4 separate regions of the Homo sapiens genome follow, and all the other regions are reported to be linked to region 2. The links are microRNA targets in miRTarBase. Many come from high-throughput screens and were not tested one by one. Region 2 holds a microRNA gene; each other region holds the end of a gene's coding sequence.
What was found. The annotated mature microRNA hsa-miR-4743-3p reads UUUCUGUCUUUUCUGGUCCAG and lies in region 2 at 1,748-1,768, opposite strand. An mRNA with a match to its seed (bases 2 to 7 or 8) in the 3' UTR can be bound and repressed. Matches are read on the target gene's strand: a 7mer-m8 pairs with bases 2 to 8, a 7mer-A1 pairs with bases 2 to 7 and ends in A, and an 8mer does both.

Region 1: miRTarBase lists TMEM130 as a target of hsa-miR-4743-3p. Seed matches in the 3' UTR shown: 7mer-A1 at 1,186-1,192.
Region 3: miRTarBase lists ARID1A as a target of hsa-miR-4743-3p. Seed matches in the 3' UTR shown: 7mer-A1 at 1,932-1,938.
Region 4: miRTarBase lists PGM2L1 as a target of hsa-miR-4743-3p. Seed matches in the 3' UTR shown: 7mer-A1 at 823-829, 7mer-A1 at 1,275-1,281, 7mer-A1 at 1,492-1,498, 7mer-m8 at 3,238-3,244 and 7mer-m8 at 3,895-3,901.

Annotation. Positions count from the first base shown.
Region 1 is chr7:98,841,573-98,848,692 of GRCh38, reverse strand. It overlaps TMEM130 (transmembrane protein 130), which reads left to right. Exons shown (of 8, transcript NM_152913.3): 7 at 1-110; 8 at 485-2,203. The coding sequence ends at 637. Among named protein-coding and RNA genes, the nearest start is that of TMEM130, 25 kb to the left of the region's middle. RefSeq lists enhancers at 1-1,177, 6,809-6,858.
Region 2 is chr18:48,665,296-48,672,415 of GRCh38, reverse strand. MIR4743 (microRNA 4743) reads right to left here and starts at 1,816; the gene lies at 1,748-1,816. It overlaps CTIF (cap binding complex dependent translation initiation factor), which reads right to left. Exons shown (of 12, transcript NM_014772.3): 6 at 1,672-1,747.
Region 3 is chr1:26,779,463-26,786,582 of GRCh38, forward strand. It overlaps ARID1A (AT-rich interaction domain 1A), which reads left to right. Exons shown (of 20, transcript NM_006015.6): 20 at 1-2,642. The coding sequence ends at 1,294. Among named protein-coding and RNA genes, the nearest start is that of PIGV, 4.9 kb to the right of the region's middle.
Region 4 is chr11:74,330,081-74,337,200 of GRCh38, reverse strand. It overlaps PGM2L1 (phosphoglucomutase 2 like 1), which reads left to right. Exons shown (of 14, transcript NM_173582.6): 14 at 447-6,885. The coding sequence ends at 549. All of the region lies in intron 2 of LOC112268078 (a long non-coding RNA gene), which reads right to left. Among named protein-coding and RNA genes, the nearest start is that of P4HA3, 22 kb to the right of the region's middle.

The DNA of each region.
Region 1 (7,120 bases), not on the chromosome of region 2:
TCCAGCCGGCTGTCTTTGCTTTCCCATGTGCTACACTTATCACTGTGATGTTGGCCTTCATCATGTACATGACCCTGCGGAATGCCACTCAGCAAAAGGACATGGTGGAGGTGGGTACTCAGTGGGGTGGGGGCTGGACTACTGGGCCTTGCCTAGAGAGGATGTTTAGAGAGGGTATGGGGGCCAGGCCAGGATGCCTGGAGGGGGTCTTGATATTACAGCGAGGCTCCGGGACTTGGGGTGATGTGCCCAAGAGGCATCTGTAGACCAGGAAAAATTGCTAAGTTGGTGTCCCATCTGATTTATCTCCTATATCCATCTCTTGCATCTGTGTGGTGCCAGAAAGGTGTTTCTGTGCACTCTGCCACCAGGCAGCTGAGCTCATAAGGCCACCTGATGGGGCTCCTGGTGGGTGGGTGATTGACCCGTGGGATTTTGTTCATCATAGGTGGCTGATTTTGACTTTTCCCCCATGTCTGACAAGAACCCGGAGCCACCCTCTGGGGTCAGGTGCTGCTGCCAGATGTGCTGTGGGCCTTTCTTGCTGGAGACTCCATCTGAGTACCTGGAAATTGTTCGTGAGAACCACGGGCTGCTCCCGCCCCTCTATAAGTCTGTCAAAACTTACACCGTGTGAGCACTCCCCCTCCCCACCCCATCTCAGTGTTAACTGACTGCTGACTTGGAGTTTCCAGCAGGGTGGTGTGCACCACTGACCAGGAGGGGTTCATTTGCGTGGGGCTGTTGGCCTGGATCATCCATCCATCTGTACAGTTCAGCCACTGCCACAAGCCCCTCCCTCTCTGTCACCCCTGACCCCAGCCATTCACCCATCTGTACAGTCCAGCCACTGACATAAGCCCCACTCGGTTACCACCCCCTTGACCCCCTACCTTTGAAGAGGCTTCGTGCAGGACTTTGATGCTTGGGGTGTTCCGTGTTGACTCCCAGGTGGGCCTGGCTGCCCACTGCCCATTCCTCTCATATTGGCACATCTGCTGTCCATTGGGGGTTCTCAGTTTCCTCCCCCAGACAGCCCTACCTGTGCCAGAGAGCTAGAAAGAAGGTCATAAAGGGTTAAAAATCCATAACTAAAGGTTGTACACATAGATGGGCACACTCACAGAGAGAAGTGTGCATGTACACACACCACACACACACACACACACACACACACACACACACACAGAAATATAAACACATGCGTCACATGGGCATTTCAGATGATCAGCTCTGTATCTGGTTAAGTCGGTTGCTGGGATGCACCCTGCACTAGAGCTGAAAGGAAATTTGACCTCCAAGCAGCCCTGACAGGTTCTGGGCCCGGGCCCTCCCTTTGTGCTTTGTCTCTGCAGTTCTTGCGCCCTTTATAAGGCCATCCTAGTCCCTGCTGGCTGGCAGGGGGCTGGATGGGGGGCAGGACTAATACTGAGTGATTGCAGAGTGCTTTATAAATATCACCTTATTTTATCGAAACCCATCTGTGAAACTTTCACTGAGGAAAAGGCCTTGCAGCGGTAGAAGAGGTTGAGTCAAGGCCGGGCGCGGTGGCTCACGCCTGTAATCCCAGCACTTTGGGAGGCCGAGGCGGGTGGATCACGAGATCAGGAGATCGAGACCACCCTGGCTAACACGGTGAAACCCCGTCTCTACTAAAAAAATACAAAAAGTTAGCCGGGCGTGGTGGTGGGTGCCTGTAGTCCCAGCTACTCGGGAGGCTGAGGCAGGAGAATGGTGCGAACCCGGGAGGCGGAGCTTGCAGTGAGCCCAGATGGCGCCACTGCACTCCAGCCTGAGTGACAGAGCGAGACTCTGTCTCCAAAAAAAAAAAAAGAAGAGGTTGAGTCAGCAGGGACTTGGGTTCCCTGTGTGTGAGGGGGGCATTCTTGCCTGCCAGCTGCTCCCGAGGTGGCCTTGAGAAGGAAGAAGCAGGATGACAGAGCCTGAGCAGCGGAACCAGCCTGCACCCTCCCTTCTGGCCCAGCGACCTGGGCTGTGGCTGAGACAATAATGAGGCCAGAAGTAGCCGGAGCCTGTCAGGAAGGGCAGGGGAGGACTGTGGGGTCTGGGCTCTGTCGCTGTAACCATCTGCTCCCAGGCTGTGTGCAGAAAATGGCATTTACACTATTGTGCAGCTCATTCTCATGAAATACTGCCATTGTTGCTAAATAAAGCTTGTGTGCTCTGAATATAGCCAAGCATAGACGGTGTGGCCAGAGTCTCTCTTTTGTGCATGGACGTTTTTGCCTTGCAGACAGCAACGGCAGTGCTGTGACGCAGCAGGACATCCCACTTGTCCTCTGTGGTGAAGACAACTGAAGGGAGCCAGTTCAGGTCCCTGGAGGTGGGGAGAGCTGTCCCCAGGTGACTTGGACATGCATCCCTGTCTGAGACCTCAGGGGGATTCTAGAGCCAGAGGAGGAACGTGGACCACACCTGGGGACGTGTTGGAAATGCAGACCCTTGGGCTCGACCTGATACCTGAAGCAGTGCCTGGGTAGGGGGGCAGCCACCTGTTTTCACAAGCCCTCTGCGATTCTGGTGCATATCAGGTATGAGAACCACTAGTCTCTAGCAGGCTTCTTAAACTTTGAGGTTCATGAGAATTGCTAGAGATCTTGGTAAACAAGAATTTTCATTTTGGAGGTCTGGAGTGGGGCCTGGGATTCTGCGTTTCTTTTATTTCTTTTTATTAATTTATTTTGAGATGGAGTCTCACTCTGTCGCCAGGCTGGAGTGCGGTGGCGTGATCTCGGCTCACTGCAACCTCTGACTCCCTAGTTCAAGCAATTCTCCTGCCTCAGCCTCTCAAGTAGCGGGGATTACAAGCACGTGCCACCATGCCCGGCTAATTTTTGTATGTTTAGTAGAGATGGGGTTTCACCATCTTTGGCCAGGATGGTCTTGATCTCCTGACCTTGTGATCTGCCCTCCTCGGCCTCCCAAAGTGCTGGGATTACAGGTGTGAGCCACCACACCTGGCCTTATTTATTTTTATTTACTTATTATTTCTTTTAGACAGAGTCTCTCTGTCATCCAGGCTGGAGTGCAGTGGCACGATCATAGCTCACTGCAGCCTCGACCTCCTGGGCTCAAGTGATTCTCCCACCTCAGCCTCCTGAGTAGCTGGGACTATAGGTGCATGCCACCATCCATGGCTAATTTTCTGCTTATTTTTTGTAGAGATGAGGCTCCACTATCTTGCCCAGGCTGGTCTCAAACTCCTGAGCTCAAGTTATCCTCCTGCCTTGGCCTCCCAAAATGTTGGGGTTACAGGCGTGAGCCACCGCACCCAGCCCTGAGTTTTTTGTTTTGTTTTGTTGAGACAGAGTCTTGCTCCAAGGCTGGAGTGCAGTGGCACGATCTCGGCTGTCTACAATCTCTGCCTCCCGGGTTCAAGCGATTCTCCTGCCTCAGCCTCCTGAGTAGTTGAGACTACAGACACCCACCACCCCACCCGGCTAATTTTTGTATTTTTAGTAGAGATGGGGTTTCACCATGTTGGCAAGGCTGGTCTTGAACTCCTGACCTCGCATGATCCACCCGCCTCGGCCTCCCAAAGTGCTGGGATTACAGGTGTGAACCACCGCGCCTGGTCCCGTTGCTGTTGTTTTAAGCCACCTAGTTCGTGGTACTTTGTTTCGGCAGCCCCAGGAAACAGACTTCCCCACGTCATTTTCGGCAGCTCCGTCTCTCACATTTCATATCCATCCTGTGAGAAATCCTTCAACTGAGATCCAGAATCTGACCGCTGCTCCCTCCTCCCCTGCTGCCACCACCCTGGTCCCTGGCAGGGCTCTCATAATGCCTGGCAGCTCCTGCTCACCCCTCACTGAGCCAGAAGTTTGTCCACAAAACTGCTCCAAGACCACATCTTCCTCTGCCCCAAACCCTTCAGTGTCTCCCTTCTCAGAGCAAACCCCAAATCCTTCTGGTGGCCTCCCAAATCCCTGTCCAACCTGGCCTGTGACCTTGTCACCCCCAGCCCCTGCTGCTTGTCTGGCTGGGTCTTTCCCGAGTTGTTCCCTTTGCCGGGCAGGATGCTGTTTCCTGGACACGTGTGGGGTTCCCTCTCTGCTCCTTCACGGCTGTTCAAACATCACCTTCATCTGTGAGGTCAACTTGGCACTCTCCTCTCCTACCTGCCCTTATACTCATGGCATATGTCACCTTCTAACATACTATTTATTTATTTATTTATTTTTTTGAGATGGAGTCTTGCTCTGTCGCCCAGGCTGGAGTGCAGTGGTGCGATCTTGGCTCACTGCAACCTCTGCCTCTCAGAGTCAAGTGATTCTCCTGCCTCAGCCTCCCAAGTGGCTGGAATTACAGGCACCCACCACCAGGCCTGGCTAATTTTTTTGTAATTTTAGTAGAGACAGGGTTTTGCCATGTTGGCCAGGCTGGTCTCAAGTGATCTGCCCGCCTCGGCCTCCTAAAGTGCTGGGATTACAGGCATGAGCCACCACGCTTTGCCTAACATACTATTAATTTATTTATTTTAAAATTTATTTGTACTTTTTTTTTTATAGAGACAGGGTCTTACTCTGTCACCCAGGCTGGAGTGCAGTGGTGTAATCATAGCTCACTGCAGCCCCAGCCTCCCTGGCTCAAGCAATCCTCCCATCTCAGCCTCCCAAGTAGCTGAGACCGCAGGAGCCCACCCCCATGCCCAGCTAATTTTCAAAAATTTTTCGTAGAGATGGGGTCTTGCTATGTTGCTGAGGCTAGTCTGGAACCCTTGGTCTCCAGGGATCCTCCTACCTCGGCCTCCCAAAGTGCTGGGATTACAGGCATGACCCACTGCAGCTGGCCTTAACTTATTTATTTAATCTGAGCCTTACATGGTATATAAACTTGAAGAAAGAAAGGATTTTGCCTATTTTGTTCACTATTTCTACTTCTAACACCCAGAATACTACCCAGCACATAGCAGGTGTTCATTAAATATTGTTGAAAGGAAAGAGGGATGGCGTGAGGAAGGGAGAAAGGGTTACTTCCTCACACTTGTGTTGTAACCTCACAATGACTGGAATTAGGGGAGGGAACACAAGACTCTAAGGAACAAACTCAATGTCTGTCCAGACTGTCCAGAAGACCCCATAGGTCAGGACAAATGGCCCGGAAGCCCTGGTGTGAGACGTGGTGATGTCCAGGTGTCAGGAGGCAGGGGCCTCCCTCCCTGAATCCTGGAGAGAGGGACTGCGGTGTGGGCCCCTTCTGGCATGGCGGCCTCTTGGACATCAGATCGGGCAATTATCCATCCTTGGAGCAGAAAGCCACTGGCCTGGCTTCTGAGAGTGGTGCCTTGTTCTGTGTTGAGGAGGAAAGGTCAGAGGCTGGAGGCTGGGAGAGCAGGTGGGCTGTAGACAGTGTGGCAGGGGCTGAGGGAGCAAGCTAAGCTGGGTCCCATGTGGTAGTGGGCCAACGGGCCGAGGAGGCTCCAGGGTCATCAGGCAGGGAATGGGTCAGAGTCTCTTAAACTGAGCTACCCTAATCCCCAAGGGATCCATGGAGAGCATTGAGGTACTTGGATGGGAAAAATTACATCTTTATTTATGTATTTGTTTAGAGACAGGGTCTTGCTCTGTCCCCCAGGCTGGAGTGCAGTAGTGTGATCACAGCTCACTGCAGCCTCGAACTCCTGGGCTCAAGCGATCCTCCCACCTCAGCCTCCCAAGTAGCTGGTACCACAGGTGTCCATTGCCACACCCAGCTGACTTTTAAATTTTCTGTTGAGACGGGGTCTTGCTATGTTGCCCAGGCTGGTCTCAAACTCTTGGCCTCAAGCAATCCTCCTGCCTTGGCCTCTCAAAGTGCTGAGATTATAGGTGGCTAATTTTTTAAGAAAGTTTTTGTAGAGATAGGGGTCTTGCTGTGTTGCCCAGACTGGTCTTGAACTCCTGGCCTCAAGTGATCCTCCTGCCTTGGCCTCCCAAAGTGCTAGGATCACAGGTATAAGTCACCACACCTGGCTAATTAAAAAAAATTTTTTTTGTAAAGATGGGGTCTTGCTGTGTTGCCCAGGTTTGTCTCGAACTCCTGGCCTCAGGTGATCCTCTTGCCTCAGCCTCCTGAAGTGCTGGGATTATAGGTGTGAGCCAGTGTGTCCAGCACTATTTTATATTATGCTTTTGAAAACATTATTCTGAGAAGAGGGCTTGACTTGACTTAAAGGGGTTCATAGTGCCAAAAATTTCATCAGTAGGTGTTTTCCTTTATATAAAATTTCATCAGTAGGTGTTTTCCTTTATATATATATATATGTATGTATGTATGTGTGTGTGTGTATATATATATATATATTTATTTATTTATTTGTTGAGACGGAGTCTTGCTCAGTCACCCAGGCTGGAGCGCAATGGCGCGATCTCAGCTCACTACAACCTCTGCCTCCCGGGTTCAAGAAATTCTCCTGCCTCAACCTCCCAAGTAGCTGGGATTACAGGCACCCGCCACCATGCCCGGCTAATTTTTATATTTTTAGTAGAGACAGGGTTTCACTGTGTTAGCCAGGCTGGTCTTGAACTCCTGAGCTCAGGGTGATCCGCCCGCCTTGGCCTCCCAAAGTGCTGGGATTACAGGCCTCCCAAAGTGCTGAGATTACACCCTGTAAGTGTTTTCTAGAGAGGCCCACATAGGCAATGAGGGGTGATGGAGGACACTACTTTCTGGGGGCCTTAGAAGATCTAGGAGATGAAGTGCCAGGGCCCCAAGCCATCTGCATGCTGTGCCCAGTATGTCCAGCAGGTGGCAGTGTCTGACCGGCTATGCTTTCTGCAGGCTCCCAGCCTCTGCCAGGTGCACCGGGGGGCATGGCGGGCAGAGGGGCATGGATGGGCAGGGTCCTGGCATTGCAGCACCTGCCGACACACCTGCATGAACACACAGGCACACTGTACGCACACACATATACTCACATTCACATTGGTGAAACAGCCAAGCTGGCAACCAACTTCTAGAACCTTCAGCCCCTTCCAGGACAGAAGACATTCCTGGGACTCTGGCCCTTGAGAAATCTTTTCAGAAGAGGAGGTCACTTTTGTTTTGCCTCTTCTTTTTCTTGCCCAATAGCTTTTCCGAGAAATCTACAGGTCAGCATGAGTCAACAGCTACAGCC
Region 2 (7,120 bases):
GACGGCCATTCAGTGGCAGAGGCCAGGAGTCCTAAATATCCCACATTGCATTGGACACGTCCATACTATTAAGAGTTGTCCCCACCACATATGCTAATAGCTAGGCCAGCTGACCCTCAGGACCCAAGGCCAGACGAGTGAACCAGCCAGCCCTATTTATGAGGGGCTTTGAAGAACACTAGGAAAACTCAGATAAGTCATCCCATTGTGCTCTCACAGGACCGCAAATTCCTCAAACACCAAAAGTCTGTGTTTGGGGATCAAGAAGCCTGTCTACCTTGTCCTAAGGGTACCCATGTGAATTGTAGATACTCCAAGGAGCAGTCAAGCCAGGAGCATTATCAGCCAGGACTTTAAGTTTTCAACTCTTGCTGATAATCAGAATTTCCTACAATGCTTTAAAAATGCAGATTCTAGCTGGACACAGTGGCTTATTAAAAAAGCCCACAATGACCTTCGAGAGATAAAAACTACAATGTCTGAAATGAAAAATATACTGAATGGGATTAACAGTAGATTTGACACTGGAATAAAATATTAGTGAACTTGAAGAAATAGCAATAAAAGCTATCCAAAATGAAACACAGAGAGTAAAGAAAGACTTTAAAAAATCAGGCAGAGCTTTGGTGAGCCATGGGAAAAGATGAAGAAGCATAGAATACATACAATTGGAACCCCAGGGTTGAGGGAAAGTAGGAGGAATCGTGGCTGAAAATTTTCCAAATTTGATGAAACTATAAACCTACAGATCCAAGAAACTCAATAAATCCCAAGTGGGAGAAACATGAAGAAAACCACCACACCAAGGCACATCATAATCAAATAGATGAGGTCTTAACTGTATGCTCTATTGTCTCTCATTGATAGGCCCAAGGCATGAACAGAGAAGAAACAAAATGGCAAAGGCACCAGGAAGAGATGAATGGATATAGATAAAATAGCAGGAGAAGAATCAGGAGAGAAGGGAAGGGTGGCACAGTGGAGTGTGGTGGTAGGTCATGGTCACTGGCAGCGGCAGACTCAGTCACTGTGGAAGGTCCACTGCTTTTACACCCCTGCAGCAGGCCCAGTCACACTCCTGAGAGCAGCTAGACTCCTGCTGTTTCCACCAAAAGTCCAGCACTATAAGTATCTAGAGACCTGGATTCACTGAGTGAATCCTCTTTGTCCTGGAACCTGGCCTGATTCCAGGAAAGAGGCCCAATCAATAAAAAAAAGAGCAAGCATAGCAGACACCTGGAGGCCAGCAGGGCAAGTCCACTGTTCAAAAGCCTAAAGACAGCCCCAGCCACATTAGAATCTCTTCCAGGCCTGCCAGTCCCACCTGAACACACCACAGGACACTTCACCTGCAGAGAGGTTTCAGGCCAAGGGACAAAAACTTCCAAGTTCACTGAGTTGCCAGGGCATGGTCTATTTCATCTCTAGGGCACATCAGGCCTGCCAGCAGGGCCTGCAGCATCACCGAGTAGGCTGTCACACACACGATCACAATGGGACACCCTGGAGAATGGCAGGTAGCCAGCCCTGCCTATTACTACCATACAGGCGGTTACACTCCTTGCTGGAACAAGCAGCCAGAAGGAGTGCTTTGGTTAGGTCCTGTCCAGGAAGAGGATCAGGACTCCAGGGGTGGGGGTGGGCTGTTAGAGAGCCTGCCCCTGCACCTACCTGCCAGGCTGGAAGGACCTTCTCGATGTCATTCAGGTTGATGCCATCCCCATCTTCCAGCTTCCCTTTGCCACACCTGGACCAGAAAAGACAGAAAGGCATTGGAAAGATGGCTCATTCATGCCTCCTGTCCCATCCGGCCAGCAGGAGAGGAGGGACAGTCAGCAGATACCTGGTGCTGCCCACCCTCAAGCCCTGCAGGGGCTGTCCCACCTAGAGGAAACAGCCCTAGAGAAGCTGTGTGTGTGTGGGGGGGGGGTCCTCCCGTAATGCAACAGCCAACCTGGAGGGAGGTGGGAGAGGAACCAGAGTTCCCCTTGCTCCTTCCAGGCAGAGAAGCTAAGCTCCTTACTCATCACAACTCCTGTCAAAGCCCATCCACCTTGCCCCATTACACTGAACAGAAGATCAGTGGACAGAGACACCAAGCAACTTTCTCAAGGTCACATAGGCTGGCAGGGGCTAGCAGAAAACCCAATAGGGCTTCCTTCCTTTTTGGCTTGACTCTGGGTCAGTCCAGCAAGCCCACTCAGATAGTCTATGCTTTGTCTTCATGTCCTCTGTGAGTGGGCGTGCCCTCGGGCCAGAGAGGCTGGCCCCAACTCCCTGGCCAGAGGTCTGAATCTTTGGCATATTTAAGGGTGCAGATTCCGAAACCAGACTCCCAGGGTTTGAATCCCCGCTGCATCCCTTACCAACTGGGGACCCTGTACAAGTTGTTTAACCTCTCTGTACTCATTTCATCAAATGAGTTTCCTCATTTGTTAAATGAGGATAATAGTGTCTAACATCTTAAGGTGGCTGGAGGATTAAATTAATGAATGTATCTGGAGTGCTTAGATGCTTAGAACTGTGACAGCCCACAGTAAACGGTACATATATACACACATATATAGTCTAGCTTATATATATATATATATATATATATATATATATATATATATATATATAAATGTTTAGCTTGTTTGTTTATAAATGTGTGTGTGTATATTTCTTGTGTATGTATTATTATCTGTATTTACCATTAAATATATCTTAAACATACACACATATGTTTAATGGTAAATACTGGTAATAATAACAAAATTAAAATAAATAATGAAGTAAATATATTGCTACTACTATGACTACTTTCATTACCACTAATATTGTTGCTGTTGTTTAGGCAAAGAGGCAGGAGGGTGATTAATTAAGGACACAGATTCTGGAGCCAACCCAGCCTCATGCAAATTACTCAATTTCTGGGTCTCCTAGTTGCTTCATCTATTGAAGAGAAGATGGTAACAGTTCCTCCCTCTCTGGGTGGTGGCGAGTTTTAAATAAATGAGGCAAACACTTAGAACAGAGGCTGGAGCATGGCCGGTGCATAGTAAGTATTGTCAGTTACTATTATTACTGGTATTGACTGAGGAATGGTGAGAGATGTCCCATGAGTTGGGTCATTTTCCAGCTGCAGAGTTCATACGAATCTCACCTTTCAGAGTAACTAGTTCATTGTTTAAACATTTACCAAGCATCTCTTCTGTTTTGGGCCTTGTGAACCAAAAAAAAAATCAGTTTTGGTTCCTGCCCTCAGACAGTGGATGGCCCTTAGAACAAATCCTAAACTCCTCTAACAGGGCTGGGTGCCGGAGCACCACTGGGGGCAGCACGAGATCGGTGTCATAAAAGTCCTATGGCCAGAGGCGCCCTGGAACCCAGAGGAGGAGAAACTAGCTGCAAACACCAGCAAAGGCCTGGGTGGAAGAGAACAGGGGGCTAACCCAAGCCCCATTTGATGGCTCATTTCTCCATTCACCAAACACTTCTGTGCCCGGCTCTGGACAGGGTCTGGGACCCAGGTGTAAACAGTGCACACAACTGCCCCTCTCGGTGTCTGGCGGGATAATCACCCCCCACAGTAGAGCAGCAAGTGCCCCGCTGGGGACAAGGGATCGTTGCAGGAACCCCAAGGAGCAGCGTCTAGAACTGTCTTGGGCGAGGGGCAGGAGGAAGGTGAGAGGTGAGCTGGCCAAGCACAGGGAATTTGGGAGGATGTCCCAGGCTGACACGGCGCAGGCAAAGGCCTAGAGTTAGGAGCATGTGTGGTGCCAGTTTGCTGTGGCTAGAGCATGTTAGGGGTCAGGGTGCAAGGGGTAGGCAAGGGGCATGGTGGAGCTGGGGTGGGGAATGGTGTGCAAGGTATAACAGGCATGAAGGAAAAGAAAAAGTTTCCCCCGGCCCCCGGCTGTCCCCACAACTGTGATGTGCTGGGGCTACAGGTGAGCAGGTGGAGAAAGGCCCGGAACATCCAAACATCTCTTAACTCATCAATCTGCCTGGTGCAGACAGGCTGGCCTGTGAAAGCACCAACTGCGTGTAGTCTTCTGTGTTCTGCACCCGCCTGGGCCATAGGGGAGGAGGGCACTGGGGACTTGGCTTGACTAGAATGGCTGATACCACCTCCCCAGTGTCTCCTGTGGGTAAAACACACCTCAGGACTCTCTCGCATGCACTGAGCTCCAAGCACACGCTGGGCACCAGCCTAGCACACTCCAAACACAGCTTTCTGTTCTCGCCTCAGCGCCCCTGGGGGTGGGCAGGTGGAGGCCTGCAGGGAGGGCTGCTGTCCCACGAGGCCTGCCCTCGTCAGGGCTCAGATCTCCCCAGAGGCCTGCAGGTTTGGAGGGCTGAAGGTGGCTACAGACCAGCTGAGTCACTGCTGCCAACAGGGTTTCCAAGGCAACAGCCTTCTCTGATTTCTGTCCCTCCATGGAAACACAGGCTGCAGGGAGCCTTGGCAACTGAGTGGTACCTGCATCCCAGGAAGGCTGCAGTGGCTGGCGCATGGAGTGTGTCCCCACTACAGCAGGACTCTAAGGGGGTCACAGTTCCTGGTCTGGCCATGAGGTGGCCACAGACACTGCACTCAGACTCCCTGGGAACCTGGGAGTGACAGGCTTTGGCTAGTGAGCCAGATATCCATGGGAGACCCCAGGTGACTCTCAGCAAATCTGGAGGCTCCTGGTGAGAAAGTGAGACTGGCCGAGGAATTTAGGCCCACAGCTGGTGACACAGGTGTGGCTGGTTACTCTGGCTTCAGAAGGGACAAAGTCCCTCGGCATAAGGGGAATTCCTCTCCTTCATAGTTATTCATCGCTTTTTTGCTAGGAAGTTAGTTCATCTCTGGGGACTGGTGAGACACTTTGGCAAGCTTGCCTTCAACATGCAGGCCCCATTGGGCACCTGTAGTCAATAAGGCAGCACCATCGCTTCGATCTCCCCAGGCCTCAGTGTCCCCACTGACGTCACCAGCTATGTGCTCCCGGGGCACACAGGAGAGACTGGAGCTGCCCAGGGAAGTCTCCCTCCTGAAGCCTTTCCCAGATGGTTCAACCTGTAAAGTGCTCTCCTTTCTAACCCCTTTTGCATTGACTTTATTTAACCCTGCACCAGGCATCACACTTTATACCTGTCTATATATGTCTTTATGGTGTCTATATGTCTACACTGCATAGTCTAGTCTGTATGTCTACACCGCATAGTCTAGTCTTTCTTCCCCTACACAGTCTCCATCATGAATAGGTTCATATTTCCTTTTCCCAGTAGAATAAACAGTCCTTCTGGGCAGGGACTGTATTGTATACTCGTGTGTGTGTGTGTGTGTGTGTGTGTGTGTGTGTCTACTTTCCTGGTACCCAGCACCATGCAGGGACCCAGCAGGTCTAGTGACAGACTGGCTACACTGAACTTGAGAAAAGCAAAATCCTGCTCCTATTCCTGTGGCATACCCAAGCTCCGCTACACTGTTGCAACAGGACACTGGGCAAGCATCACCTTTGCTCACAACCCCTTCCTGAAGCTGACCCACTGAGAAAGGTAGGTAAGGCCATCCTTCCTAAGCACAGAAGTGTGGAGGCCCAGCCCTGTGCAGCTCAGCAGTCTGGAAGGAGCATGGCCTCCCTGCAACTGAATGAGTGGGCTGAGCAGGCAGTGAGCAGGGTGGATGGGGTAAGGTAGGGTCGGGAGCCTTGCAGCTGTGTCTCTCCTATGCTCCATCTTAACCAGTGCCTCCATGCGCAAAGCCATCTCTCCCTCTTCACCCAAAGAGAAATGGAACCCACAACAGGGAGGGCAATGAAAAAGAGGCGTGTGAGAGGCTGGTGTCTCCTGGGAGAGTCGGATGCAAGTGATGGGCCTCTCCCCAGCAACACACACGTGTGCATGCACACATACAAATTTGCAGAAAATTTTAAGGAGGTTAAGAATACCCTGATGTGGTGAACTAGGGGTTGGATGGTGTCAGAAGGCCTGGCCTTAAATGATGGCTCTGTTATTCAGGCAAGTTACTTTGCTTCTCTGAGTGTTATTTTCCTCATCTCTAAAGTAGGAATGAGCCCATTTCTTTCCACGGGTTGTTGCTCATTACACTATGATGGGACCAATGTTGCCAAGAGGAGAGGTTGAGTGGGACAAATATAGCAGCAGGAAGACATGTGAGATGTAGGATAGTGTCCAGTAAAGTCACTAATACTTAGACCTGAAGTGAAAGGGAGACAAGAGTGAGCAGGGGAGGGCTGGAAGGAAAAGTAAGGGTCATCAGTATCATAATAAAACACAAACAAACAAAAACCAAGAAAGAAAAAAAAACACAAGTGCTGGTGGGGATGTGGAGAAATTGGAATCTCATACATTGCTGGTATGAATGCAGAATATTCAGCTGCTATGGAACACAGTTTGACAGCTCCTCAAAGAGTTCAACAGAATTACCATACAACCCAGCAATTCCACCCCAGGTATACACCCAAGTAATTACAAGCAAGGACTCAAAAAGATACAGCAGTATTTTTGACAATAGCCAAAAGGTGGAGATGACTCAAGTAAGGATTGATAGATGCATGGGTAAACAAATTGTGGTATATCCATACAATGGACTAGTATTCAGCCATGAAAAGGAATAAAGTTCTGCTACATGCTATAATGAATGAACCTCAAAAACATTATGCCAAGGGAAAGAAGCCAGGCCCAAGAGGTCACATATGACTGTTTCTGTAAGTATGCAAAATAGATTAATTAATAGAAACAGAAAGCAGATTGGTGGTTGCCAGGGACTGGGGGTGGTGATGGGATGGGGAATGATTGCCTAGTGGGTATGGGGTTTTATATTGGGATGATGAGAATGTTTCAGAACTAGATAGACATGGTAGTTGCACAACAGGTCTAGCATACTAAATGCCAGTGGACTGAACACTTTATAATGGTTAATTTTATGGTATGGGAATTCTGCCTCATTAAAAATTATATAAAACTATAAAAGAAGGAGCAGCCATTTGTCCCACACCTCTGTGTCTCGCTGGAGTCACATTCCCGTCCTGAGGTCTGCCCAGGCTGTGACACCACTTTTGAAAAGGGAAGGCAACCCTGCCACACAAAGTCATAGAGGGTGAGAAAAGCCAGTGTAAAATCAGGC
Region 3 (7,120 bases), not on the chromosome of region 2:
CCAGACCCACTTCGAGAGCAAGACAGAGCTGCTGCCTTCCCGGCCTCACGCACCCTGCCCACCAGCCCCTCGGAAGCATGTGACAACAGCAGAGGGTACACCAGGGACAACAGACCAGGAGGGGCCCCCACCTGATGGACCTCCAGAAAAACGGATCACAGCCACTATGGATGACATGTTGTCTACTCGGTCTAGCACCTTGACCGAGGATGGAGCTAAGAGTTCAGAGGCCATCAAGGAGAGCAGCAAGTTTCCATTTGGCATTAGCCCAGCACAGAGCCACCGGAACATCAAGATCCTAGAGGACGAACCCCACAGTAAGGATGAGACCCCACTGTGTACCCTTCTGGACTGGCAGGATTCTCTTGCCAAGCGCTGCGTCTGTGTGTCCAATACCATTCGAAGCCTGTCATTTGTGCCAGGCAATGACTTTGAGATGTCCAAACACCCAGGGCTGCTGCTCATCCTGGGCAAGCTGATCCTGCTGCACCACAAGCACCCAGAACGGAAGCAGGCACCACTAACTTATGAAAAGGAGGAGGAACAGGACCAAGGGGTGAGCTGCAACAAAGTGGAGTGGTGGTGGGACTGCTTGGAGATGCTCCGGGAAAACACCTTGGTTACACTCGCCAACATCTCGGGGCAGTTGGACCTATCTCCATACCCCGAGAGCATTTGCCTGCCTGTCCTGGACGGACTCCTACACTGGGCAGTTTGCCCTTCAGCTGAAGCCCAGGACCCCTTTTCCACCCTGGGCCCCAATGCCGTCCTTTCCCCGCAGAGACTGGTCTTGGAAACCCTCAGCAAACTCAGCATCCAGGACAACAATGTGGACCTGATTCTGGCCACACCCCCCTTCAGCCGCCTGGAGAAGTTGTATAGCACTATGGTGCGCTTCCTCAGTGACCGAAAGAACCCGGTGTGCCGGGAGATGGCTGTGGTACTGCTGGCCAACCTGGCTCAGGGGGACAGCCTGGCAGCTCGTGCCATTGCAGTGCAGAAGGGCAGTATCGGCAACCTCCTGGGCTTCCTAGAGGACAGCCTTGCCGCCACACAGTTCCAGCAGAGCCAGGCCAGCCTCCTCCACATGCAGAACCCACCCTTTGAGCCAACTAGTGTGGACATGATGCGGCGGGCTGCCCGCGCGCTGCTTGCCTTGGCCAAGGTGGACGAGAACCACTCAGAGTTTACTCTGTACGAATCACGGCTGTTGGACATCTCGGTATCACCGTTGATGAACTCATTGGTTTCACAAGTCATTTGTGATGTACTGTTTTTGATTGGCCAGTCATGACAGCCGTGGGACACCTCCCCCCCCCGTGTGTGTGTGCGTGTGTGGAGAACTTAGAAACTGACTGTTGCCCTTTATTTATGCAAAACCACCTCAGAATCCAGTTTACCCTGTGCTGTCCAGCTTCTCCCTTGGGAAAAAGTCTCTCCTGTTTCTCTCTCCTCCTTCCACCTCCCCTCCCTCCATCACCTCACGCCTTTCTGTTCCTTGTCCTCACCTTACTCCCCTCAGGACCCTACCCCACCCTCTTTGAAAAGACAAAGCTCTGCCTACATAGAAGACTTTTTTTATTTTAACCAAAGTTACTGTTGTTTACAGTGAGTTTGGGGAAAAAAAATAAAATAAAAATGGCTTTCCCAGTCCTTGCATCAACGGGATGCCACATTTCATAACTGTTTTTAATGGTAAAAAAAAAAAAAAAAAATACAAAAAAAAATTCTGAAGGACAAAAAAGGTGACTGCTGAACTGTGTGTGGTTTATTGTTGTACATTCACAATCTTGCAGGAGCCAAGAAGTTCGCAGTTGTGAACAGACCCTGTTCACTGGAGAGGCCTGTGCAGTAGAGTGTAGACCCTTTCATGTACTGTACTGTACACCTGATACTGTAAACATACTGTAATAATAATGTCTCACATGGAAACAGAAAACGCTGGGTCAGCAGCAAGCTGTAGTTTTTAAAAATGTTTTTAGTTAAACGTTGAGGAGAAAAAAAAAAAAGGCTTTTCCCCCAAAGTATCATGTGTGAACCTACAACACCCTGACCTCTTTCTCTCCTCCTTGATTGTATGAATAACCCTGAGATCACCTCTTAGAACTGGTTTTAACCTTTAGCTGCAGCGGCTACGCTGCCACGTGTGTATATATATGACGTTGTACATTGCACATACCCTTGGATCCCCACAGTTTGGTCCTCCTCCCAGCTACCCCTTTATAGTATGACGAGTTAACAAGTTGGTGACCTGCACAAAGCGAGACACAGCTATTTAATCTCTTGCCAGATATCGCCCCTCTTGGTGCGATGCTGTACAGGTCTCTGTAAAAAGTCCTTGCTGTCTCAGCAGCCAATCAACTTATAGTTTATTTTTTTCTGGGTTTTTGTTTTGTTTTGTTTTCTTTCTAATCGAGGTGTGAAAAAGTTCTAGGTTCAGTTGAAGTTCTGATGAAGAAACACAATTGAGATTTTTTCAGTGATAAAATCTGCATATTTGTATTTCAACAATGTAGCTAAAACTTGATGTAAATTCCTCCTTTTTTTCCTTTTTTGGCTTAATGAATATCATTTATTCAGTATGAAATCTTTATACTATATGTTCCACGTGTTAAGAATAAATGTACATTAAATCTTGGTAAGACTTTTGTGAAGCTTTTTATTGTTTTCAAACTAAAACTTGACCTTTTGTCGGGGGGCAGGGGGATAGTCCTGTTTTTGCAAACCTCCCTTAGTGTGAGATCTCCCCTAAATAGTGGCATTCCTGGACCCTGTCATTTATTTACTATATTCCAAAATAAGACAACCATTTATCTGGAGGCAATCTCCAACTTAATCACTTATAATATCTCTGGACTGGCTCTTTTCCCTGACTCCAGACTAGAGCATTCAGCCACCTTTCTTGTCATCCCTGCTTGGAAGTTTACTTTGAACATGCCAAAGCTAAAATGTCCTGTCTTCCCCCACTAGAAACCTGCTTCTCCCATAGTTTTGGTTTTTTTGTTTGTGTTTTCCTTTTAGTAAATGGCAACTCCATTCTATCACTTGGCTAAAAAAATCCTTGACTTCTTTCACTTCCACATCCAATCTGTTAGCACTCTTCATAAAATAATCCTCAATCCCACACTACTGTAGTTCAAGATACTGTCATATCTTGGATTCTTGAAATACCTCCAAATTGGCCTCCCTGCTTCTGCTTTGCCTGGTTGAACCTATTCTCAACAGAGCAACCAAAAGGACCCCTATAAAAGGTAAGTCAGATCAAACGCCTTCAGTGCTTCTGACTCAGTAAGTAAAAATCCAGACTCTTAAAAAGTGGCCTACAAGGCCCTGAGTTATCTAGCTTACCTCTACCTTTCCTGCACCATCTGTCTTGCCCGTTGCTCACCCCACTGTATAGAGATGTTTCCACCTTGGAGTCTTTGTACTTTATACTCTCTCACCAAATAACTGCATGGCTCAAGTCCTCGACTGCTTCAAGTCTTTGTCCAAATATATAAGTAAGGCTTTTCATGGTCACCTTACTTAGAATAGCAATCTCTGCCCCCCACTATGTTTCCCTTGTCTGCCTTATTTTTCCTGTGGCACTTGTTACTGTCTGGCCTGTTGTGTGTTGTACTTACCTGTCACCTTCCACTGAAATGTAAACTGAGGGTGGTGGGAGGGGTGTTTTGTTCACTGCTGCATCCTGGTGCTAACACATAGACTGGCACATAGCATCTACTTAAGTAGTAGTTGAATGATACTGTCGATGTTGGCTAGATGCAGTTGCTTTTATGAGGCTAATGTCACAATATATAGTTTCTCTGTTCACCCCCTTCCTTAGGGAAACAATAGAGAAGCCTCAAGTTCCTCAGGAGAAATCAGAAGCAGAAAGAGAAAAAATGCTATCATTGTGGACACTTAGAAGTGAAATTTGAAACAAGAAACAACAGTTTTCTATTGTGTACCTACTTATATTCTGGACATAGCACATCACAATCCTACAACAATCCTGTGCCTGTGAAGTCAGTATGTGGCTCCCATTTTACAGTTGAAGAAAGAGGCTAAGAAAAGTGAAAGGCTTTTTAAGTTCATACACCAAGCAAGTTCCACCTGACTCCAAGGATCATGCTTTTCTTAATATACCACACTACCTCCTTTCTGGATGAGAACCCAACCCAGGAGTAAGGGATCTAGCTGTGGAGCTCAGCAAGCAAGATTTGTTTTTATTGTCTTTAGCACGAGGTAAAATTGTCCTCAGAATTTCAATCAAGTGTTCATCAGACTAAGTGTGGCTGTTAATATTTGGGTCAGGAACAGGATTTGAATAATTAGTATTTCTCAATTGAGAGAGGAAAACCTTTGTCAACCAAGATGCGTTCCTAGGATTCTTCTAGAAAAAGGTAAATGGGAAGCTTTTCATATCTACAATTTTGGTAAGCAATATTGCTAATGGCTATTTTTGTTCTAGGCCTCGAGCTCCGTTTGCTAGTCTAGAAATTGCATATCTGGGCTGTGTGTGGAGCATTACCTAGGAGTTCGGTTTCCTGGGTTCCTTTCATCTGCTCTCCTGCAATGCAGGGAGAGCCTAGCCTGGTCTCCAGTTTCTGACTGGAGTTACCATGGCCAAGAGAACTGCTGGCCAGTGAGCTGTGAGTAATTTGCTTTTGAGAAGTAAATAGAACCTAGCCAGCAGAGAACCCAGGGGTGTGGCCAGTAGTTCTTTTCCCAGGCTCCTCCCTCCCCACCCCCCAAATGACCTTAACCTTCTTTCATAGCTGGAGAGCAGCCAAGTCCAGCCTAAACAATACTCTCAACCTCATTGGCTCTTTTGCCTTGCAGCCACTGCCACCCCCAAGTGGCTAAGGCCTTCCCACTAGGCCTCTCAGTGGGGTCAAGGTTTTCTAACCACTGAAAGGCAAACACTGAAGGAATGGTGAAAAATACCTAGTGACCATGGGCTTTAAATGATGAGTGTTTGGGTACTGCAGTTGGAGGCAAGGCAGAGTCTTTGTCCTTGGGTGGATGGGCATCTTCAAGTGATCGGGCAGAGGCCAAAAAGGATGCTTTTGGTATATGAGACCTGACTGGTGTCACCCCAAGTGTCAGGATGGATGTAAATGTCACCCAGCATCTTGGAAACTGCCAATGAATGCCTTTTATCCCACAGCAAAAAGAAGTAGCATAAAGTTCTGGTAAAGTACAGCAGGCCAGTATGGTCACTTTCGCCCCACAATGGCATGACATCAGAGCCAGCATCCCAGATTAGGATCAGCTATTCCAATCCCATAGGACTGGGGCCATGGAAAGTTTAGCTTCTAGAAACTGAACTGCTGAGAGTAGTTGGGCTACTTACTGGGCTGGTCCTCTGCCCAGCCTGGGGCCAAGGCCACTTCCAGAAGTGGAGGCAGGAGCAAGGCAAGGCAGCTACAGAGAGAAATGTCAGTTGCTCCAGGGAAGTGAGTGTTCTGTGAGAACCACCTAACTTCCTTCTCTACACTTTCAGTGGGAAAATCACTTTTTTGTTCAGTGAGTTGTAATAGCCCATCTTTATTGAGCATTGTATGCCAAGCACTATAAATCCTATGAGGTAGATATCATCTCCACCAGGGCAAGGATTGTTTCTATCTTGCTCAGTGTTGCATCTTCATCCCATCACATAGTAGGCATTCCTGTACTGTTGAACAAATCAAACAGATAAGATAGGAATTTGATGGAGGAAAGAGTAGGTCAGAGCTGTTAAGACTTGGTGTGCCCATCTTAGCATAGCCCGTAAAGACTCTTACATATGGGAAAAATGGAAGAGAGGGAAAGAGGTAAATCTGTGAAAGATTAAAATAGTGTAGAGTGGGAGAACCAGCCTGGGAGGCTGGAGACCTGAATTCAAGTCCCATCGCTACCACTAGCTATGTGACTTCTTGCCAGTCACTTACCCTTTGTGATCCTTAGCTCCCTCATCCATAAAATATAGGTATAGGATTAAAGAAATTGATTTATTGACCAGATCTTTATTGAAGACACACAGTGTGCAAGGCACTGTTCTAACTGGAAATACATTGGTGAACAAAGCCCTTGCTCCTCCATTACACTCAGAAGCTTACATTCTAGAATAGGGAAACAGACATTGAAACAAGTAAAATTCATGGACAGGACAAGCAGATAGTGTTAAGTGCTATGAAGAAAACAGAGGCCGGGCGCAGTGGCTCACACCTGTAATCCCAGCATTTTGGGAGGCCAAGGTGGGTGGATCCTTTGAGCCTAGGAGTTCCAGACTAGCCTTGGCAATATAGTGAGACCTCATCTTTAAAAAAAAAAAAAAAAAAAAAAAAAAACAGAACAGACTGATGGGATAGTACAGGGAAAGCCTCTCTAAGGAGGTGACTTCTCTCCGGAGACCCAAACATAATGGGCTAGCCAAAGGGTGGTCTGGAAGTAGAGTGCTTCAAGCAGGGAAAATAGCAAGAGCAGAGCCAGGCAAGTTCAAAGAACAGAAATGATGTAACCCTCTTAAATCCTAAGCTTCTAGAATAGTAATGCATTGCTTGCATTGTTCTGGTTAGGGATTTGTATGTGATATTGTTTCTTGGTGATGTGGGATATGTGCTTCTTAATGGAAATGGCTGGGAAGTGTGGAGTCTTTCTGGAGCCTGGGATATGGCTCTTTCTCACTTGCTTTCCACAGTTCTGGTAGCTCAGCTGGCTCCCTGGGTAGATGCAGGCTCCATCTTAGCTGCAGACTCTACAAGAACACTGAGAGGCTGCCTCCGTCACTACTCAAAGCCTTGGAGTCCCAGAATCCCCTCCTATCCCACCTAGCCTTCTTCCAATCTGAAACCAGGGAGTCAGGGCTTTGAGAGCACAAGATTCAGCTTCCTTGTTTTCCTGTCAGAGCAGAAGTCAGAAAATGAAACAGGAAACAGAGCGGAAGAGGAGGGGGTTGGGTAGCAGAGAAGGAAAAGAGAAATTGCAGGAAAGTACAGCTGAAAATCTGGATAAAGTTCTACCTCTACAGGGTGACAGCTGAGCTTTTAAAAAACATTCTGACTTGTCTTGAGAGACCCCTGGCCTTTTTACAAATAGATTTTTGAGAGAATTTGATGTGGACAGAGGGAACCCTGAGAATGCATGTCTTTTTTCC
Region 4 (7,120 bases), not on the chromosome of region 2:
CACATTTATTTTTTTAAACATCACGTTATTTTAGTCACACCTCCTTCTGCTACCTGAAAGATATATCATTCCATAACATCTGTACTGAATATTTTTCAAAGTATTTCAGGAAGCCATTTTCTCCTAACACCTGGTATTTGTGTTCAAAGCCATTAGAACCTCATTCTCCTGACCCAGGAGAATTCTTTAGATACACCATCACTCCTCTGTTTATCATGTGCCAAGGAACTCCTATTAATGCAGTTCACCTTCAGTTTGTGATAGCAGTGTTTTCTTTGTGTGTAATTTTTTTTTTTGGTCTTGTTTTGTTTTAACCAAGTGAATTTCTCTTTTGTTTACCAATTGTTTAATGACTCCATCAGGACCTCTTAAAAAATCACACTAATTTAAATAAATTTTAAGCCTATGAAAATAAATAATTCCAAAACTCTTCATCTTTTCCTCAGTGACACTGCTTTACTGGAGGAAGAACTGAAGAAACTCATTGATGCTCTGATAGAGAATTTTCTTCAGCCTAGTAAGAATGGACTGATCTGGCGTTCTGTTTAGGGGTACACCAATATGTCATGACACTGTGTGGGCATATGGAACAGAGCAACCGAGAACTGCATACATTGAACCTTGTGTTAGCATTCTCTCTCTATCTCATCTGGCCGAGTATCTTTTTCCTTTTATTTTCTTTCTTTTTGGTCAACTGGCTAGACTAAACAAAGTATAAGTTTGAAATGAAATGGTCTAGAGGGAAATGATTCAAATTTTTTCATAATTCAAACAAAAGTTATTACACTAAAAGTATTATAGTAACGTATTGTCCTTCCGTTAACAGAAACATCACAATTCAAAAGTGAGTTTTCTTATTATAGTGTGATTAAGCCTAGTTCTGTATCTCGTAATTGTGTATAGCATGGTAAAAGAAAAAAAAAAAGACAGGTAAATGTTATATAATTGTAGGGTTAGTTAAGGAAATTAGTCCATAAAATTGGCAAGAAAATGGTACTTTCCTTGATTGTTATGAAAAAGTGTCATTGTGACATCACAGGTATTAATTTACAAATTAGAGTATTTGAAATAGGATATTTAGCATTTCTGTAGTTTAGAACAGATGTTACAGTGTGTGGTTTTGGCATGTCTGTTTCAGGTGCCCTTGGTGCAGTATAAATTTACTGTATGTATTTAAAATTCTGATGTTTACTGAACATAAAACAATAGTGGCAACACTCCTATTGGCTTTGTTCTTATCAAATTTCTCAGTGCCTTCTCAGGGTCTGGTGTGAACAGAAAAAACAGTGTTCCTGCATTTACCATAATTTAATCAGTCAATTTGCAGATAGCTAAGGAAAATCTTCCAAAATCTGTAGGTGCTTCCTCTATATCAAGTGAGTTTGCTGATTTTAAAATCTTAGGAATATAAATAAAGATCTTAATAAAAGCAAGCTTAATGTAGTTAAGGATCTTCATATTAGAATTGTGTCATTTATCAAACCTTTTATTACAGAAAAAAATCTGAACTGAGAAAGGAGCTCTGAATTTATTTGACAGTCTAACTTTTGAATTACATTTTTGTAAGTAGATTTATTCTTTTATTTTATGAAGTAATGTTAATTTTACTAAGAATAAAACATCCAAATTTTAAGTATTATGAAATACTAAAACTACATGTTTTAAAACAGAGGTCCAGTTTATTCTAACATCTTGCTGACTTCTGTAGAATTTCTGATTGCATGACTATTATTTATCTTCTTTTAGTGTAGAAAATAATTTTTTACAAAAAGTCACTTTTGGGCTGGGCGCAGTGGCTCACGCCTGTAATCCCAGCACTTTGGGAGGCTGAGGCAGGTGGATCACAATGTCAGGAGTTTGAGACTAGCCTGGCCAATATGGTGAAACCCTGTCTCTACTAAAAATACAAAAATTAGCCGGGTGTGGTGGTGGGCACCTGTAGTCCCAGCTACTCGGGAGGCTGAGGCAGGAGAATTGCTTGAACCTAGGAGGCTGAGATTGCAGTGAGCCGAAATCACGCCACTACACTCCAGCCTGGGCAACAGAGGGAGACTCCATCTCAAAAAAAAAAAAAGTCACTTTTGGCTAATCATGCAGTCTTCTGAAAAGGTTTAATAGAGAAATGCTGTTTAGGCTGGGCTTGGTGGCTCACATCTGTAATACCAGCGCTTTGGGAGGCTGAGGCAGGAGGATTGCTTGAGGCCAGGAGTTTAAGTTACAGAACTATGATCACACTGCCGCACTGAAGCCTGGATGACAGAGTGAGACCTTATCTCAAAAAAAAAAAAAAAAAGAGAGAGAGAGAGAAAAAGAAATGCTGTGTTTAATCTTCTTAAAATGTATCTTGTCCTACATAGTTCTCAGAATACATATGGGGTATAGTTAGGAGATAACAATAACAAGACCTAAACAAATTGCTTATGGGAGATAGCACTGTAATTAGAGAATTTATTTCATATAAAATAATAATATAAAGTTTGAACTGATTAGAATGTTCCTTAAATCATGGTTTCGTTTGTTGCAGCTGTCAGCTAACATTTGGTTGAGCTCATATAATCCAAACCTAATTGTCCAACTATTGTATTGCCACTATTGTTAATTTGTTCCTTCCTTACTTTCTTATTGTTGGATCTTATATGACTGTATGACTGTAGATAATAGACAGCTAGCTAAATGTAGAGCACCATTTTTCTCAATGAGTTTGTTTTCAAAGGCTTTGCACTGGAGAAGATATGTGTAGAATTTTTGTTTTATTTTTAAAATGTGTAAAACATCTTTTGTTTTATATGCTTTTAAGAATGTAGATTGTAATTTAGGAAATGGCATATATTCTGCAAAGTGGTATAATGTTGTATATATGAAAAACAGGTATATTTGGTTTAGTTCTGTGTTTCAGTGACTGATAAACAAAAATGAAGCTAAAATGAATCAACGGCTCATTCATAGTTACTAAAGCCATGTCATGACTGTCATTCTATTATGAAGAAAACAGTTTTATTTGAGTGCTTTAATATAATGCAACATTTAAGTCATCTTAAGGTGAAAAGTTATTGAAGTGTTCTTCTCTCAAGTTAACAAAATTTTACAAATGTTCCTGAAGTGTATCGATTGAGGGAATTATTTTATTCTAGCCTGTCATGAGTCTGTCTGAGCATGATACTTAACATGAACTTGATGTAGTAGGTGCACATTTGCCTAACAGGATAAATTCAGTGATAGCCCAAGCTGGTCAGGAGAGACAGAAGTGCTGGCTAGGAGGTCTCAGCCTCGGGCACTACAATGTTTATCTTTTTCTTTTTGAACAATATTGTGAAAATGATTGCATTCTCATTGAGCATGAAAGTCAAAACTGGAATTTTCTAAAGCTTTGGAGAAAAGGAGAGAATTAGTAGGGCAAGATCAAAGCATACATTGGAAATAAACAGTAGAAATAAGCAAACAATATAAAGAGACACGGGAAATGCTTCTCGTGAAGGGCAAATGTAACACCATAACAGTAGGGAATAAACTGTGTCCCACCTGTTTACTTGTGTTTATTTGTTGTTATGATGAGTATGCACCTACCATTTTCCTTTATTGTGATCACTAAAATGAGGCCAAGGTTTAGGAGGTGAGAAAAAGTATCCCTTTTACGGATTCAGTTCCTGCTAGGATGTTGTATCAGAATCATGTGAGAACTCAGGAAGAGGTAGAGCAGAAATAAAAAGGAAGAAAATGTAGATTAGAAAATAAGACTTCTGAGAAAAAGTTCAAGGAATAAAGATTGTTTGACTCTGGAGAGGAGAAAGCTGTTGAGATAGTTTGCTAAGTTTGCTAATAAAGCTTTATTGAGTCTTTTATTGAAGGGTTCAAAGTAAGAAATACTATGCCATAGTGTTCTCCATCTCTAGTGAAGACAGAACCAGAGGGAATAAGGATCTTTTTTTTAAAGACAGCATGGAAAGTTTAAGATTTAGGAACTTCTTGAGAAATCTTCATAATATCTTCTATTCAAAATCTTTTTTTTATTTTTAAGGGAATAAAAATTTTAAAAATTAAGAGATATACAGATGACTTTTTAAGGGTCCTTCTTTCCAGCACATTTTTTTTAAAAACTCAGGTTAGAACAAAAATGTCATAAAGGGCACTAAAAGTAACATTTGGGTTTCACTCCATATCTAGAAGAATTTAGCTCACAAAACAATTTTTGTGTGTTTTGAGTAACTGATGCATAAGTGCAATGAATAATTTTCCTGCTTCACTGTTATTTTTAATTTAACCTGGCAAATTAAGTGAGACTTGAACAAAATTTTGTTCATCTTGAAGAATGTATAGTGGCTTAGGTTATTTGAGGTTTTCGTTTTGAATATATATGTTGTTATTTTGATGTAGATACGTTAGCAGATGGAGAGGTTCTAAGAGATTGGATACTTTGGAATGTCTTTATATAGGAAATAGACCTCCCATTTCTTAAGCAAGTTGCTTCTGGAATTGATGCAACAGGGATATTAGCTGTAGTTTAATGGATAAGTTGTTCTATGAGCTGCTGCTATCAGTACTTTTTTCCACATTTTCCATTGATATTTGTGATGCTTGAAAAATCCAAACTTCACTTGGATACATTTAATTTTATGCCTTTTTCTCTCTACCTCCCACTTTTCCTAGGCACCCTTGCACATTTTGTTACTGTGAAGGACTATTGCCCTGTTACCTCACTGATAAGAAATCTCAACTGTATTCATTCAGAATGCTTTAAGCTTAGTCATAAACTACATTTGCCTATGGACCTTTGGTTATTTTGTTAATGTTGTCATTATATTTAAGACTTATTGTAGGAAGTAATTTTAAATCTATTTCATAACCTGTTTTGATCTGTCTGCATACTGCTATATGTTAATTTATTACGGCCTTTTACAATTCACTTGTCATCTGAGATTGTTCTAGAAACTGATGAGGAAAGAGTCGTACTAACCAAAATGAATGGGCAATTGACATAACATTCTATTTCAGGTTTCCTTGTACTTGGGGAGCCAAAGCACAAGATCTAAGGAAATCTTATTCACATTTGTCCCTCAGAGCATCTTACCCTAAGCCATAGAGGTATAAATAGTAAGATGAGAATTGCTCATTGTCTGACTCCTTGCACAGCATGAATTTAATTCTAGTTGGAAACAAAGTTAGTGTTGACTACTGGTTACCTTAAAGTATTCACCATACTATATATTTATTAGACCATCTTTCCTCTTTGTTTATTCAAGACTATGTACTTATAAAAGAGAACCTATAAGAATGTGTAGAGTGACCAAATAGGGACAAAGTGACATACCTAGAGTTTGCTGCTCAAATTTTTCCACTAGCGTAACCCTAAAGCAGAGGGGCATGATGAAGGGGGAAGGGGTTCTGAGAGCAAAATCAGAATCAGCCTACCACTGACATGAAGTGTGTTCTGTCTTTAAAATGTAAGTGAATTTTGCATTCTTTATAATAAAACTTTTAATATAAAAATGATATGTTTAATCTTTACTGAAACTTATGCCACCACAAAGGAGCACCATGTTCATCACGTGGCTGCTCAGTTTTCTCCCCCAGTGCCCTCACCCCCAGTGGAGGCAAGTCCTTGAGCTACACACACTGGCTGTAGTGCAAGATATATAAACATAGGCCGGGCTCGGTGGCTCATGCCTGTAATCCTAGCACTTTGGGAGGCCGAAGCAGGTGGATCATCTGAGGTCGGGAGATTGAGACTAGCCTGACCGACATGGAGAAACCCTGTGTCCACTAAAAATACAAAATTAGCCGGGTGTGGTGGCACATGCCTGTAATCCCAGCTACTCGGGAGGCTGAGGCAGGAGAATCACTTGAACCCAGGAGGTGGAGGTTGTGGTGAGCCAAGATCGCGCCGTTGCACTCCAGCCTGGGCAACAAGAGTGAAACTCCATCTCAAAAAAAAAAAAAAAAGATATATAAACATAGAACATATCCAGACTATTTCCTGCCCTTGGAATCTGACCTTCAGAAGGATTAATGCCAAACTAAACTGACCTGAAACAGTTTTGTTACTATTGGCATTCCTTGACTAAAAAGGACCACCTGATGCTCAGTCCCGAGAGTAGGAATCGTGGTTTATTATTTTTCATATCCATACCACCTAGTTCAGTACCTGTTATAGAGTGTTTAATTGCTGATACTAGGAATTAAGGGATTTTTTAAAAGTAGCAAATAGTTTAAGGAACAATCAAAAAATGAATTTTCTAATTCAGTTTTTTCAATGAAGTCCCATCACTGAACTTTATAATGTAATGTTTATTAAGCAGACATCCCCTTAAATACTCAGTTTCTTTGGAGAGAGCAAAGCATATCTCTCTGTGGAAATTATATATAATGCCTGGTATTTTACACTCAAAGCAAGGTGTTGGCCAGGAAGGTAAAGAAATGGTGTCTATGTAGACTTAATATCACTAGTCTAAGTGTCATTTTGAGCCTAGTAGCACTACCTTCCAAGTGAGTCACAACAAATTTGATCCTATTTGGTATGTTTTTGTCCACTGTTATGATTCATCATGTATCTTACAAGAGCCACTCAAGCAAGACTCTGCTTCTATGTATGGTGAGGCCTTGTTGTTCTAGGCTAGAATAAACTCTTTGTATGCCTCATTGAATATGCCAGGTAAAATTTATGCAGTCAAGAATGAATTATTTTTCTGACTAAAGTGTGTAGCAGTAGTTCAAAATTGTGCCCTTGTTTTAACAGTTTCTGTCAACATCTTCTCATTTTTCCCTACAAAAACACCAGGGTGTATTATAAGTACTGCCTGTGAGAATTTGCACTTTATGTATTTGTGTGTGGATTTCTTGTGGTTTTAGCCAAATGAAGTGTTATCAGTAATAAACAGGTCTCTTCATAGGCATGAGTTTCTGTGTAATTTTTATTTGAGATACTGTGTAGTTCATAAAGCTTGCTATCTAAACAGGAAATACTCTTGAAATACACACATCACATACCCTAGAATCCACTTTGCATCTAAATGAATATTCTGGCTTAGTACTCAGGAAATATTTCTTGATTGGTTTATCAGAAGTCCCAGATGTGAGAACTAACATTAACATTCTTATTTTTCTTTTCTTTTTCTCTCCTTAAGCT